2 separate regions of the Homo sapiens genome follow, and region 2 is linked to region 1. Evidence: fine-mapped expression QTL. Tissue or cell type: prefrontal cortex. Region 1 holds a variant in brackets; the other region holds the start of a gene. All regions are shown on one strand. Distances are between the middles of the regions.

What was found. PIP is the estimated chance that this variant, and not a neighbour inherited with it, causes the effect.
Region 2: it holds the start of AFF3, and the variant in region 1 is fine-mapped to the expression of AFF3 in prefrontal cortex (BrainSeq, PIP 0.95).

What each region holds. Positions count from the first base shown.
Region 1 is chr2:100,097,080-100,105,079 of GRCh38, forward strand. It overlaps AFF3 (ALF transcription elongation factor 3), which reads right to left. Exons shown (of 25, transcript NM_001386135.1): 4 at 7,323-7,439. The coding sequence starts at 7,375. Among named protein-coding and RNA genes, the nearest start is that of AFF3, 42 kb to the right of the region's middle. The variant T/A (reference allele first, on the strand shown) is at 4,184.
Region 2 is chr2:100,137,619-100,145,781 of GRCh38, forward strand. AFF3 (ALF transcription elongation factor 3) reads right to left here and starts at 4,972. Exons shown (of 25, transcript NM_001386135.1): 1 at 4,866-4,972.

The DNA.
Region 1 (8,000 bases):
TCCAGTATCAAGTTAAGCACATAACTCTCTAAATGGAGTTGCTATGTTAAAGTGGTCTCCAAATTACAGTCATTTTTGTTTACCTCCGCTAACAATGAGCCTCCTGGGAAGAAATTATGTGAAGAAGTTTAAGTACCCTCTATGCCTTTCTCCACAGGTGAGTGGGGAAATTGCAGAGGAAAAATACACAAGTGAATACAATTAATGACTTCTGCACTCTTTGATTCCTGCTACCCTGTGAGGGGAATGATCATAGAATTTTGAAGCTGGAAGGAATCTCGGAGATAGCCTATTGCTGCCGCTCTGCCTACCCAGGAATGTCTTTCTACAAAGTCAGGTAATTGTTACCCTTTGAGACAGCCCACATCACATCACTGTTAAATGCTCTCACACCCACTGATCTTACTCGTGCCCTTGAGCAACCCAGAACAACTCTATTCCCACTTCCCAGCTAAATGCCTTCAAACACTTAAGGCCCCTATCATATCCCGGGTGGTAGTTTCCTTAGATTGAACCCATTTAGTTCCTTGGATTGGGTGGTGTCCTCTTACTCTGATATAAACACTGTGTATTTTGTTTCCAGTGAAACTAAATTATGATTAGCCTGACATAATTTAATGAGACCCACAGTGCCAAATGAAGTCATTCGATGTAATGGTTGGTAATGCAATACATTCTCAGTGAAACATAAAAGATTATGTAATGGTTAATAGATCTACATATGTGAGTAGTACCACCGTAAGTAAGAGCATATTTGTCTGCTGGACTATGATGCACGACTAAGAAAAGCTACCAACCTCTACTCAAAACCGTCCCAGGGTCCTGTTGCCAGGGACAGAACGCTGCACCGCATGGACTGCTGAATCTGACCTTATGCGGCCTTTCTGTATTCTTCCTTGTTTATGAAAAAGAGACATTTTTAAGAAAGCAAAGGGTATAGAAGAGCTACATTTGGCATTCAGAGCAATTGACACTTTTATTACTTAACATCACAACCTTATGAGGTAGGCCAGTCTAAGTGCTGTCATTTTATAAGTGATTAAACCAAGACTGAGAATAGGAAATGAGAAAAATCATGAGCTGCCCAGGGCCAAACAGAAAGCAAGGTTGGGGCCAGCTGAATTCAGAAACCTCAATTAAATTCCAAGACAAAAGGGAACAGCCAACATTGAAAATAAGTTTTATGGATTTCACTTTGAAATAAAACAACAACAAAAAAATTATGTTACCATTAAATGATATTAAAATCGTCTTTTATGGGGCCTCGATTTTGCCACCAAGGCTTTATTCCCAAAAATTAAAATAAAAAAAAAATCAAACAGGCAAATCTATTCCAGGTTAAAAATTCCACTTACACACAAAATCTTGCATTCCATATTGAGAGGTTTTTTTTTCTTAATTTGCCTATTAATCTGTATTAAGCCAAAGGTCTTCGTTCAAGTTGCTCAAGTGTCATTGATTAGACCCATTGTAGTTAACAAGGACATTCTCCCAAAATAGATTCTTAGCATTTTAAAACCCTCCTACATTTTCACAAAAGAGAATCTGGAACACAGGAAGGAATCATTTCCCCACACACAATACTCATCTTCATCGTCATCCAGATACATTTGGTTAAAAACCTATCCACACATTAAGGTGCACACTCCCTGGGTTCCTCCTCCCTGGTATCCTCTGGGGCCCCAGCCCAGCTGGAGTCCCCAAGTTCTCGGCGCCCTGAACTAACCAGTCTCTCCACCCAGCTTTCTCCAAAACACACCCCACACGAGGGCTGAGCTCCTCCACAGCGGATGCAACACTCCACTGCTTCCCATCGAGGCCCCCTGCCTCCTCCAGGCTGATGAGCAGCCCCTTCCCCACTGCTGCCCACAGCCCTAGCCCTGGAAGCCTCTCTTCTGAGAAGGCTTTGCCTCCTCGTACCTGCCGAGGCCCCTCCAGGCCCATGCTGAGGGCCAATGAGAGCCACGCAGTCAACTACACGGTGACCTTCGGCCAGTGTGAGTACACGCAGCTCTGCAGAGCTGCTGTCTACCAATCAGCTCCAGGACACCTGGGGCTCAGACAGGTGCACTCTCCTTCTGCCCTTTCTTTGTACTCTGTTTTGACCCATAAGGACTGACCAAAAGGATAGGAATAGGCCTTAAAATGTTTGCTTTACTGCAGCTGGAGGAAAGGGTTAGAGGCACCTGAAGGTCAAGATCAGGGATCTGTAGCATTTTCTGGCACTATGAAGTAAAGTCTAAAAAGGCCTGGAGGAAGCCGCCCACTGGCCTGCGCATGCCCCCTGGCAGTTGATTTGAAGACAAGCAAAAGCATCAGCGGGCACTACTAGGCAGCATCCTTAGGGAGACTAAACTGCTAGTGCCTCTGCATCCCTCCCTGCCTGTGTTAGCCTACCTTCACCAAACAAGATCCACACTTTATTCCCTCCATGTTTCTATTCACAGTCTTCCCACCACGTGGTTTTCCTCCTTTCCATTTCCTCCTGAAATTCTACTCCAGGACCCATTTCAAATGCCACCCCACCATGAATATCTTACTTTCAACAGGATGTGCCCATGCCCCCTCAAGCAGGCAGTGTCAGCCTTGGATTACAGGTATTTATGGGTATGGCTTATTCTCCTATTAAGTTCCCAAAAAACACACTGTCCTTTGCATCCTGTACAGCAGGGTTTCCTAAACTGCAGGTTTCAGCCTATGAATGGGAAATTCTAAAAAAAAGAAAAAAGAGAAAGAAAGAGGATAGGAAATATCCAAGTGTATCACACATAGTAATAAGCGTTATTTCATGATGCTCTTGTTTCACTTACGTGTATGCATGTTCAAGGGGTGGTGGGTGGCAGTGTTAAACGTGTATTTGTTACTGGGGGTCATGGTCTGAAGCATTTGAAAGTCACTGCCCTGATGGTACCTCTCCTCTGTCTAATATTCTGTGAATGCTTATTGAATTGAACAGGTTGATGAGTATGAAATGATCCATGTATTATAACTTCAAAGGCTCCAACTTAAAGGAATATAAAGAATAATGCCTATCTGAACAAAAGTGTGTGGATTCTGGCTTATATGAAGCTGTGGAGGAATGGGGTGAGTGGTAGGGAAGATCAGAATATTTATTATACTGTTGTATGTTGATAGACTTTCTCTCCAATGATTAAAATGTGTTAACATTTAAGGAAGATGAAATACAAGTTCATTTTGGAAAACTTTTCTCATTCACTGAAACTACCTCATGACTACAAAGTTCTGCATCTTTAAAAGAGACAGTATAGGTAATTCCACCATGATGCATAAAATGATCTTTTAGAGACACCATGAAAGCCCTTGTTCAAGTTTTCTTTGCCCAAGATGTCTCCATGTACTCTCAATACCCCCACCCACACCATCTGTCTTCCAAGACTTAGTTCAAAGGCCACCTATTTCATGGAAGCCTTTGTTTTTTAACTCAATTTTTCCTCTTTCCATCCTCCACCCAAGTCCCAAATATGGTCTCTTTTCTGAATCACCAGTGTTGAAAACTTCCTTTTTCATGTGTGTTCTTGTCTTAATTTCCTCACTTGACAATAACACTAATATGTACAACCTACGCCTTACTCATCCTTGCATCTCCCACAGAAACCAGCACAAGGTCTTCTACTTAAGAGATGATCAACAAATATTTGTTAAACGAATTAAATGAAAGCAACAGTTAGCCTGTTAAAAGGGATGGTCATTATTTTAAAGGCCCTGAGGAATGGCTTATATGTCTAGCACCTAATCAAAAGCTGGTGGACCACAGAAGGAAGACCAGGGAGTGGAGGGGGCAGCCTTGTGCCTCTGCATATCTGCTGCCCCTGTAAACTCACGGAATGCCCAACTCTTCAAGACTCTACAGAACAAAGCTACAGTGTTGGGTGCTGAATGAACACCTTAACCTTTTTCCAAGTTCTCCAGTCTTGCTTCAAACCAGAAATTGGAAGTGGAATTAGAGGTGGAAATTAGGGCCATCCTTTTCAACTTTAAGGTATGGCTGAAAAAGTTGAAACAGCCATCTGGATAATTCAGGCTCAAAAAACCCATCCTGAAGAGTAAGTATGGATGTTTCTGAGTGGCAGGAAGAGTGTGCAAGAAGGCAAAGGAGGTAGTTGTGAATTATCAATTGATTGTGTATATTGATTATATTCAACAGAACTGAGCTTTTCCCTTT[T/A]TATTTTCTATAAGGACACTCTCTGTGACTGCAAGAATAAACTAGCTCAGATTCAAAGCCACAGTCACCACTAATAAATTCCAATTTGTTCAATTGGAAAATGATGTCCATCAATTAGAAAAAGTTCTTAGGGATTAAGATTCTCTTTTGCCATTAATCTGTACCTCCTCCTTCCTCCTTCAAAAAAGTTTTTCTATGATCAATCAAAGGAAGAAGTTTTCAATGGTCTTTAAAATGTATATTGCTCTAATACAATAATTCATAATTAACAGGTATACTTTCCTAACTATGGTAGTTTATTTTCAAATTTTTAATTTTAATACCATTTAGGGCTCTCTCTCTTTGTTATTTTAGTAGGACCTTAACTTCCAGTCCATCGAGGTTTTGTTTTGTAATTAATTTCAGAGCTGTCCTTATAAGCTGAGAGATATTTGAAGTACTCTAGAAAATGGCAATTGTCTGACCGGATTTGAAGTCAGATCACTGGGCTTTGAAGCTAATTTCTGGTTGAAATATGGCTGCCCCATTTTTAGATGTGTGACTCTGGGCAGGTTACCCTATCTTCCCATCTTCAATTTTCCTATCTTTAAAATGGAACTAATAACAGTACTTGCTTTATAATTAAATGAGCTAAAACATGTAATGTACCCAGAACAGTGTCTGATAAATAATACGTGTTCAGCAAATGTTAGTTTTAAAAAGTCTGCTGTCATCTGTTTTATGACCTCAGTAAAGTCATTTAACAGTTCAAAGCTTCTATTTCCTCATCTATAAAATGGAACTACTACCACTTACTTACCCTTTCCAGGATTAAGAGATTCAAATAAGAAAACAATGGATATGAAAATATTGGACACACAGAAAGTTCTCAAATATTAGTTATTTTGAACCATCTATAAGCTTAAAAGTAACCATAAACTTAAAAATTTACGTAAACCATAAAACTGAGAACATAGCATCCAAAAATTCATCTGTGAGAAAATGTCTAAACATATTAGAAATGCATACTCAAGCTTGGTTTTTCTTTAACTTATCAGAAACATATAAGCTTTTGTAAAATGTAATTCTACATCTGCAAAACTAGAAACCCTCCCGGTCAAGCCAAACTGTCCTAGTATATTGTGATCAAGAAAGTCTACATGCCTTCATAAGCCAAAACTCGATGCACTGATTAAAATGTGATTGCACGTACATCAACTTTTTAAAAAACGTGTAAGTTTTTGTTTTTTTTAAAGTAATAAATGTACTGCTAATGTAAATTTCAAGTCAATTCAACAGATATTTATTCTGTGACACTGCTCCAGGGTAATTCAGCTGGGAACTAAGGATGCAAAAGGAAACAGAGCTCAGGTTCTGTGCAGGAAGACCCCACAAATTACGCTGATAATCTCAAAATATTACTTATGAAAGTCATAAGGGGGTTCGCTTTGAGTCAGCAAGCAGACAAGCAGCATAAAAATATACCGAAACAGTAAGTTCTTCCCTTTGACTGAAAAACTGCCTTTTAAAAGCAAACAGCATTTTAAAAGTACAGTTGCTATCTGGAAAGCTATTGAATTTGCGCCAGAAACCAACATTTCTAAATGTAAACCTATAAAATAATAGGTATCTGTAAATGAAAGGCTGAAATAACCCCAGGAGCAGCAACACAGTAATTAGCAACTTTTACACAGTCATAACATGTTTCATATTCTTTCTGCCCTGGCTCTTTGAAGTTTCCAGTGCAATACGTAAAAGTTTTATTACATTAGGGCCCGTCCTTGTGTGTTTTACAGGCACCAACATTATGCAGAGCAAGCTGTACTTACTCATCATAGGATCTTTTATAAGAAACCGTTTGATAATGTGCTAGCTTTGTGTCCAGTTTATTTTGTTACACCTGTCTTTAGGAAAATAAAAGTCACTGGAAACCTAAATCACAGAAAATACACACAGATCCACATATCATCTATATGTTATAAATCATAAAGCAGTTTAGCTTTAAAATTGTACATTGCATATTCATGTGCACACCACTTGCAGTTTTAGACACATGTGAACTCTTTACTGAATTAAAGCAAAAGGAAAAAAAAAAAAGCTCAGCTCTACAATAAGCGATTACCAGAGGCAGAACAGAGTGCAGTTAATATGCTTGTTCCAGCAGATGTTCATCCCCGTAAATATTAAACATAACACAAGTTCCTCCAGGAATATGCAGGCAGTAATTTTACCACCTGAATAGTGCTGGTTGGAAACATTTAAGAGATAGTGGGGGGTTGGGGGGAGCAGAGAAAGAAGGGGGAATAAGACAGATACTAAAGCAGCCAATGGGATTTTTAAGACACCCGCAACTGGAATTAAACTGCTTCCAGCGGCGATTTACCTACAGCAGCTCCCCAGTGTGAGATCCCCCGAGAAACGGAACCTGGAGTGCCCCCCGGGCTGCGAGCTGTGAGCGTGGCATAAAGGGATACCCGGGGCGCCCGGGTGGGGTGGGGAGGAGGAGTGCAACTGTGACGAGGTGTGAAGAAAGGGCCCAGAGGAACTGTGAACCCCGAGGAAAGGAGTCTCCCTGGGCTAAGGCCTCTGGAATACCGGCACGGAGAAACACTCGTTTCCTGCCCTGGATGTTCACTTTTCCATCTCGGTGGAAGTGGGTGGGAGAGACAGAAAGGATGCAGCCGAGACCGGGCGCAGGCGGGGAGGCTGGAGCATCCTCTAAGGGCACTTCGCAGCAGCACCAACTCCAGGGGGTCGGTGGTGCCAGCCGGAGGAGGGAGGGGGCGCAGTCGGAGGGAAAGGAAGTGAGAGGAGCAGGGGGCCGACGGGTGGATCCCCAGGCATTAGTGACACAGTCTTCAAATCGCTTCTTTTCCTCCCCACGGCTGCGCTCTGCCCCTGGCTACCTAGATCACCAGTCCCTGGGCTGGGGCGGGCCGCCGCGAGGGAGGGGAACAGGAGAGGGGGAAACAGACGGGCAGGCGGCCACGCATCCCACCCGGGGAGGCAGAAAAGGGCTGGCGAGGCAGGCGCCCCCGACCCACCCCACCCCCACGGCGGCCGGCCGCCCGGAGCCCCCGGCCCAGGTGAGGACGCGCGGGCCGCCGCGGCCGCCCCTCGCCGCTCCCGCCCGCCCGAAGCGGCCGGCACGGGGACTTACCACAGTGACTCGAGGTCCCATTCCTGGAGCAGGGCTAAGTCGAAGCTGTCCATGGTGGGAGGTGTCAGCGTCGCCGCCGCCGCTACCGCCGCCGCCGAGGCTCGGGCCGCCCGCGCGCTGCAACGAAAGGCGCCGCTCAAGGTGCATCCCAGCCGCGCCAGAGCGGCCGCCGCCCGCCCACCGCCCACCCCCAGGTCGGGGCTCCCGACGCCCCCCGCCCCCGACTCCGGGCCGGCCGGGCTGGCTGCAGCGGCCGGCGCACTCACCCGCTCCCCGGCTTGCGCGCAGGCACACTCAAGAGAGAGCAGCGAGCTCGCCGCGCCGCCGCCGCCCCCCGCCCCCGGCCCTGCGCCCGCCCCTCCTCCCCTCCCTCGCGGCGGCCCGGCCCGCTGCTGCAGCCGCCGCCGCCGCCGCCGCCGCCGCGGTGCTCTGCGCCCGCCCGCCCGCCTCTTTCTCCTCCGGGAGGCGCGTGTGCGCGGGCGAGGCCGAGGCGCGCGCGCACCGTGAGCCCCGCGCCGCGCCCGCCCCGCGCGCCCCTGTACTCCCCGCGCCGCTCCTCGGGGTCCCGCGGCGCTCGCAGGCCGCGCCGCCCTGCCGCCCCTCTCTCGTGGCTTTTACGGCCCGCCCGCCCCTCAGCAGCCCTGGGGTGCCCGGGGCGGCCCTGCAAGCGGGAGAGAG
Region 2 (8,163 bases), 41 kb after region 1:
CTGTACAGCCTAGACTCAGGATCGCCCTAAGGGAGTTGGCATGGAAGATTTCAGAGCTGGGCAGACTGGGCGGGGACCTCTCATCTGTGTTTCCTGAGGGTCACCTAGCCTCTTTGAGCCTCCGTTCTCCATAGGTGAAAGGAGTGTATCATATCTGCCTTGCAGGGGTGTTGTGGGACTCAGAAGATGTCCATAACATCTATGCCCAGTGTAGAGTAGGAACTGGGAAATAATATCCATTACTGTGATTTTGTGAGGAGTTCCAGATAACTGCTCAGGTCTTTAAGAGAATTCCTTGGTCTTCATACTCCACTCCCAGCTGTGGAAGCAAAGCAATCAGAATGAGGATGCAGGAAGCATGGGGTGGCCATCTGCCAGTTCTCCCTTTTGTATGCCTATTTCTGCAAACAAACCCACCAACGATTAGATTGCCCATGATAACAAGCCAGCCTCCACTCAGAGCTCACCGTGCAATGACTGTGTGGAAGACATTTGTGATTTTTTTGCTGTCACCACCAACTATCTTCCCTTCCTGTTACCACCGCAGTCTTCCTTCTGGGGATGCCTCACCATGCATAGATGTGGGAGATAGGCCGGAAGTCTAATGGAGGGTCTACCTTTCCTCAAGGGGCAAGCATGTGATCTAAACAGGGGTCATCACTCTCTCCCCTCTTTCTGGGATTTTAAATAAGTGACATCCCAATATGGGGACAATTGAGGTCATATCTGTCACTGTGGCAGCCACATCATGTGGCCCAGACTGTTGCCACATTTCCATTCCTGTGGTTCTTAACGGTGTTCTTACCTTTGCTTGCTGCTCTATTTTAAGTCAATCAGCCCCCAATATTGTTCTGCTAGATTGACATTTTGTTCAGCATAGCCTGATTCAGTTTCTGTCTTTTGCAACAGGAGCACTATCTGATACAACCAGACTCCAAGAGGAAAATAGAAAAAGGGAGCTCATACCACTTAAAAAGATTTCTCTTTACTGTGGTCATCATCCAGGGCTTGGGAGAAAGGTGAAATCTTAAAAGATACCAGTAGGCCGGGTGCAGTGGCTCATGCCTGTAATCCCAGCAGTTTGGGAGGCCAACGGGGGGCGCATCACCTGAGGTCAGGAGTTCGAGACAAGCCTGGCCAATATGGTGAAACCCCATCTCTACTAAAAATACAAAAATTAGCCAGGCGTGACGGTGGGCGCCTGTAATCCCAGCTCCTCAGGAGACTGAGGCAGGAAAATCACTTGAACCCAGGAGGCGGAGGCTGCAGTGAGCCGAAATCATGGCACTGCTCTCCAGCCTGGGTAACAGAGCAAGACTCTGTCTCAAAAAAAAAAAAAAAAAGACACCACTAAATGGGACACAACAACTGAGTTGAAGTTATGCATCATTACATTAGAGAGGATTTGGGGGTAGAATGCCTTTCTGTTTGCCAATTTATCATCAAAGGGGCAAGAGGATGAAGGGCGGAAGGGAAGTGGTGAATATCAACTTATACAACCACCACTCAAACACAAACTCTTTGCATGCTTTTAGGAGAACTTGAAACAATTTCAATTTTCAGGATGGGGAAAAGTAAAAGCCCTATTTGCCCTTTCTCTCTTCATTATCCATGGTCTCCACATTGCTCCTTGGTCCTGAGAAAGCTGCCACAAAGCATTTTACTAGTTATCTGATTGTCATTCCATTTAACATGTCCCCTGGTCTGCTGGCTGATGGTAGTTTAAGCAGGATCTAATTGGTAACATATTGCCGATTGAATTAAGTGCCATATGATAGAGATTTAAACCATGGTAATTTTTCCATAAAGAAAAATCTGTCAACAGGCTATAGGGGAGGAACAGCAATAAATCAAATTGTCGTGTTTATTAGTTATTGCAGGAGTCTAGTTGTCTTGTATTCATTATAACCCCCCATTTTTAGTGCAGATAAAAACTACAAAGAGGAATATCTGTGCAAGATGCTTTTTAATAGGTTTGTATTTGTACACAAACACCTGCTTGTATTTTAATGATGAGAACAATGGTGCCATTTCACTTTGAAAGGAGCATGTATTTTTGGCTGTTTTCTGGATGAAGAATAATGTTTTTAGTTTTTGTCAAAGCTATGTTTTAAAACATTGAGAATCAACTCACTAATAACCAAAAAAAAGGCAAATGAAAGCAGAAATGAGATATGACTTGTTTGTCAGACTTGGAAATACTAAAAGAACAGATAGGATGATTGCACTAAAGGATTTCTAGAACAGTCATTGCAATTTAACTTGTGATATTCAAAAACCGGAAATCAACTAAATTTTCATATATGGGAATGGTTGCACAAATTATGGAACATCAGCTCCAGAGGGTGCAAATGGGTCATTTGAAAGAACAAGTTAAATCATACCTAATGACATGTCATTAAGAACCAACATTATTTATACTTTTCATTTCCATTTAACTTGCCTTTACCGAAGGTGGATTTCAACACGTTTTCCTTACATGACTCGGAAATAATATAACAGCATTTTACGTATGTAGACTCATTGAGCCCTCATAAAATCCTGTGAACTCTGTAGGACAGGACATTACACCCACTTCACAGAAAAAGATGTGGAAGTGCAGAAGATAAAAGTTATTTATGGAAGGGTCCATAGCTGTCAACCTTGATAGGCAAGACATCAGGTCCTTCCTCTGAGTAGTGGTGTAGAAAAAATGGTTGGAATTTAGAAACCAGCATCCAGCTCCTCACCATGCCTTCAGCTTTCTCTGTGACTTTGAACTTGTTTCTTAAACTCTCTGAAACTGGACGTCCTCACTGGTCACGTTTTGTTACTACTTGCTTTGTATTCTGGGTGTGATGGGTGGGGGATTGGGACACAGAATCTGGAGATGGTCAGATCCCAACGCTGCTATTTCCCTGCTCTGCACTCTTAGGCTACCTACCAATCTCTCCTCTAAAATAAGCATAATTGCAATGGCTCAGATACAATAACAAAATGTGTGTAAAATGCCGAGCACCACGTCTCACACCTGAGAGGCACTGAATGCATGTTATATACTATCATTTGGATGTCACCGTTCCATGTGCCTATTTCCTGGTTTGCTGTACAAGATGTGTATGAGTACATGTCATCAAGCCCACAGAGCTCCAGAACATGTTCCTCTCACAAGCAGGCCTCATAGGGAGGGGTGTTCTGTGCTGTTCCTCTTTCCTGCTCACTACTTGTCTGTAGCTACAGTGTAAGGACTGTAATGTCACTGCTCTGGCCTTAAGTGTCACCCCCCAAACCCATTTTACACACACCACCTCCCACCTTTCACCTTTCCCAAACTCTTACCATGTCCCTTCAAGTTTGATGGCTTAATTGTACAAAAGGTAGTGATGATGATGATGATGATGATGACAATGATAACAGCTGCTAATACTTACTGAGCCCTTTCAATGTTCCAGGCACTTGTCTAAGCACTTTACATGTATTAGCTTATTTAATTCTTAAGAGGAAGGGATTACTATCTACTATTGTACTTGTGTTACAGATGTGGGAACTCCGATGCAGAGATGTATAGTGACTTGCCTAAAACCATCATGTTAGAGTGGGAATTTAAACCTTGAAATCTGGAAAATAAGCAATGTATATATTTTTCTATTTTCTAAATGCAAATCAAATATACATATGCATAACACCACTAAACACTAAGTGCAGTTACGCCTAGAACAAGGGAATAGCAGTTGACAGAAACACAACCAAAACTAAGAATATTAAATGTCTGTATTACTTTCACTGTAATCACTTCACTTCAACAGTGAGATGGGATAGCCCTAGGTAAAGGAAGGTGCTCTTGTAGTTAGAACATTCTTAAATTTTGCACCAAGGAACACATGCTTTTAATAATGGCAGAGACAACATTTTTTGATGGATTATTTAGTTTGTACGATCAACATTCAAAGAATGAGTTTACCACCACTTTGTTATTGTAAACACTTGACCTTTAGCTACCTGAATGATCCCCTCTTTGAATAAAAGGAATTATGAAACACATGTGTAGACATATTTCATTTTTATATATGTGAGACTCGAATAGCAAGGAAATCACATATTAGGAAAAAAACCCCTTTGTCTTGCTATTAGTTCTCTTTGGTTTCAAAAATCTGGTCACTGTGTATATTGCATTATATCATATGTGTGTGTACATATATATACACACATAAACACACATACACACAATGTCATGTGTATAAATACATGATGTGTTTATGCACATACACAGACACACACACACAAATACACACATATACAATGTTCCATCCAAGAAATACAAATATAGTGCTGTTAGCCCCTAACAGTGAGGAGGTCATTATTCCAAGTCATTTCTGCAGAAGTGACGGTGGCCTTAGGTGGAACTGCCCATGATCTCTCCTTGCAAGCTCACTCACTGGGGCCATTGACTGGGATCCAGTCTGTGGCCATGTCATGGTTTCTATTTTTGAGGTTATAGCTAATGAGCAACATGAGGTTAAGACACACTTTTCATAAGGCCCCAGCCAGCATCATAAATATGTGTGTGAGCATGTTCACACTCAGGTTATGTCTTCTTTATGTGCACCCTCTACCACACACACACACACACATGCACACGCACACACACTGACGGCTTCAGTGACCAACTTTGGTCACATCCCATCTCTTCCTTCTCAATCCCTCTGGCTGTTCACCAGGGCCTGGACCATCTCGGTGAGGCTGACCAAGAATGCTCCCCCTGCCCTGACCAGCGGAGCATGGGCACAGCTACTTAGAGCGCCACCCTTCAGGACACAAAGTCGGGGCTACCTCTCTTCCAGGCAAGGCATCCTAGAGGGCCCGCACACCCTCCAGTTTGATCTTACCTCTCAGCTCCCGTTCCTTTTCTTTCTCTCCCCAGTAAGTCGTTGAACGTCTTTCTTCTGAGGCTGAGCGTGGAGCTCTCTTCTCGCTGGCGAGCTTTCTGAATGGCACTTTCTGTACAAACAGGAAGAGCATGTGTGGTCACAACCCAAGTGTGCAGGTGTTGATAGAGGATGTGAAAGTGTGGAGGCGAGTGACTAAACCAGATACCCAACCGGCCAACTCTCACTTGTGGCAGGGCCTGGTCTACCAGAAGGCTGGAAGCAGGAACCTGGACTCTACTCTGGGGAGACCAACTGACAAAAGCAGAGGATGGTGGCCCTGGAGGCCAAGGGAGAAGGTCTCTTTGACTCCTGTGCTTTCTAACCCTATGCAGACCCATAAAAGAATCCCAGGAACATTTTGGAATCTCTTAGATATATGATTATCAAGAATGTTGATTTCAATGGGCTGCTTAACTTGTCCAAAGCTCTGCTGGTTTCCCAGGCTGTCTGGGCCTCCAAGAGATCAGGACCAAAGGCTCATCCTGCATTGGAACTGTGACAAGTCTTCCAGACCTTTCTAGAACAAAGCTACACCAGGAAAGAAGAGTCTTAGGCAAGGAATCAGATGTCCTAAGGCTGCTCTACATGACCTACATGATGGGTGTTACCTCCTCATCTCCCATTCAGTCAACCCACGGGCACTGGACTTCCTGCCCGACACCCTTCCCTCTCCCCATTCATGCCTGGAATTATTTTCACTAATGACACCAGGGATTCACTAATGGATGCTTTTTCAGTTCCTGTCCTATTTGTCTCCACTGGCAGTGTTTGACTTCCCTGTAGTGTTGACCATTTCTTTCCTCCCAGAACTTCTGCCTGGGCCGCCATGACTCCATACTCTCCTGGTTTTTGTCAGGCGGTCTCTCACACTGGCAGGCTTCCATTCTTTGGTCTTAATTTTCGCCCTCCTGCAAGCTCCACTCTCCGCCTCATGGTTCCTGTTCTCCATGGGTGGCCTCTTCCCAGCTCCAGATGGAACTTGCCAAGCCCACATCCATAGCATCACACATTTCTGCTGTTCTCCTGGAACATCCCCCAGCACCTCCCGTCAGACTCGCCACAATGAAACCCTGCTCTGTCCTCTACCCCACTCATTACTTACCATGTGGCCTGTGAATTCCCTCCTGCCTTGTCCCAGCTTGCTCCTCAGGTCTCTACCCCCTTCTGAGTTTACCACCTTCTGATCTCTCACTTTGCCTCTGCTAATCTGGCTTCTTCAGGTTTGACCCTCCATTATCCTCATCCAAACAGGCCCGTCCTTATCCTGAGAATGGATACCTAGAAACTTCCCCACCCAGTCCTATCCCAAGCCCTGGGAAATTATCCCAGTATTGTCTGCCTCATGTCCCTGGCAAGGAGAAAACGTTTCTTTATCTTATACCCAAACCAGAAATGGGGAGGCTTCCCACGTTCTTCTCTTTGCTGAATACTCTTCAACCTTCCATCACCAAGCCCTGCCCATTCTACCTCTTCAGTCACTCCTCAGATCCTTCTTCCCGTCCGCATCTCCACAGCCACACCCTCCCTCCATTGCCTCTCATCACTGCCCTAATCCCCAAGGGGTACGTGCACCCAGGGCACACCAGACCGTTCACTGAAGGATGAGAAGAAAGGAATTGAATGTCTATCTACCCACACTTGTCTGGTTTTTGTATTTAATTAAGACTCACATACCATAAAATGAGCCGTTTTAAGATGGGGAATCCTGTGGCATTGAGTACACTCACAATGCTGTGCAGCCACCACCTCCATCGAGTTCCCAGACTTACATCTATTTTTACGTCATGTTTTTAGTGTTTACATTTTGTGTATGTTTCAAGGCATGCAATGTGTGAATACAGTTGTATTGTATATCATTTGTGAATAATCATACATCTGCTCAGAATAGGCGGCAAAGACTTTTTTGCTGAAGAAGATACAAAATTAGAAAAGTGGGGACACGTGACCTCCTAACTCATCTCTCACATGTCAGGCTCTAGAGTGTTTTCCAAACTGCCTCCAAATTTTCTCTGCAAAAGACTACAAAAATGATGACAGTACACTCCCCTCACCCCACGACCAGTCCTTAAACGCTTCAATGGCTCCCTGTCACCCACAGGAAAATCCCAAGGCTCCATCGCTGGGCAGGCGAGATGTTGGATTCAGTGGCCTCTGCCCACTCCCCAATACCATCTCTTGCCATCCTTGATACCACTTCCTTCCTCACCACCCAACAATCCCACCACCACTCATGGTTTCTTGAACTTTCAGGCTGCTTTATGTCACAGCTTTGCACATGCTATTTCCTCTTTCAGGGTGCCTTCACTTCCATTGGCTATCTGGCAGATCCCCATGGATATTAAAAACCCTTCCATCCTGCTCATCTCAAAGCAGAATTCCTCACCTGTGCGGGCTGAAGCCATTGCCTTCATGTTAGATGATACTATGGGCAATTTGATGGTCAGGAGGGTGGGCTCTGCCTCCAGAAAGACCTGGGTTTGGGTTCAGCCTCTATCATTTACTAGCAAGGGTAACTTGGGGATGTTACGTTCAGCTTCCTCGTCTATACGGTACCCACTCATAGAGTGACTGTAGAAATTAAACAACATAGTGTGTGTGCAGGATGTCATAAGTATTCAGTAAGTGGTGGAGATTATCATGATGGTTATTCTGTTTGTTTACCTCACTATTCTGTAAACTGCTTGTAAAATTTATAAATTTCATACCAAGGAGAGCTACTACTTCTAAGGCAGAATGTCTTCATTTTAATTAAAAAGTTGGCCAGGATTGGTGGCTCATGCCTGTAAGCCCAGTGCTTTGGGAGGCTGAGGCAGGAGGATTGCTCGAGGCCAGGAGTTCGAGACCAGTCTAGGCAACGTAGTGAGACCTTGTCTGCACAAAAAAATTAAAAATTTTTAAAAAATAGCTAGGTGGTTAGACGTGGTGGCTCATGCCTGTAATCTCAGCACTTTGGGAGGCTGATGTGGGCGGATTGCTTGAGGTCAGGAGTTCGAGATCAGCCTGGCCAACATGGTGAACCTGACCAACATGGTGAAACCCTGACTCTCCTAAAAATATAAAAATTAACCGGGCATGGTGGCGCACACCTGTAATCCCAGCTACTCGGGAAGCTGAGGCAGGAGAACCGCTGGAGCCTGGGAGGCGGAGGTTGCACCGAGCCAAGATCGCGCGGCTGCACTCCTGCCAGGGTGACAGAGTGAGACTCTGTCTCAAAAAAAAAAAAAAAAAGAAAAGCCAGGCGTGGTGGCATGCACCT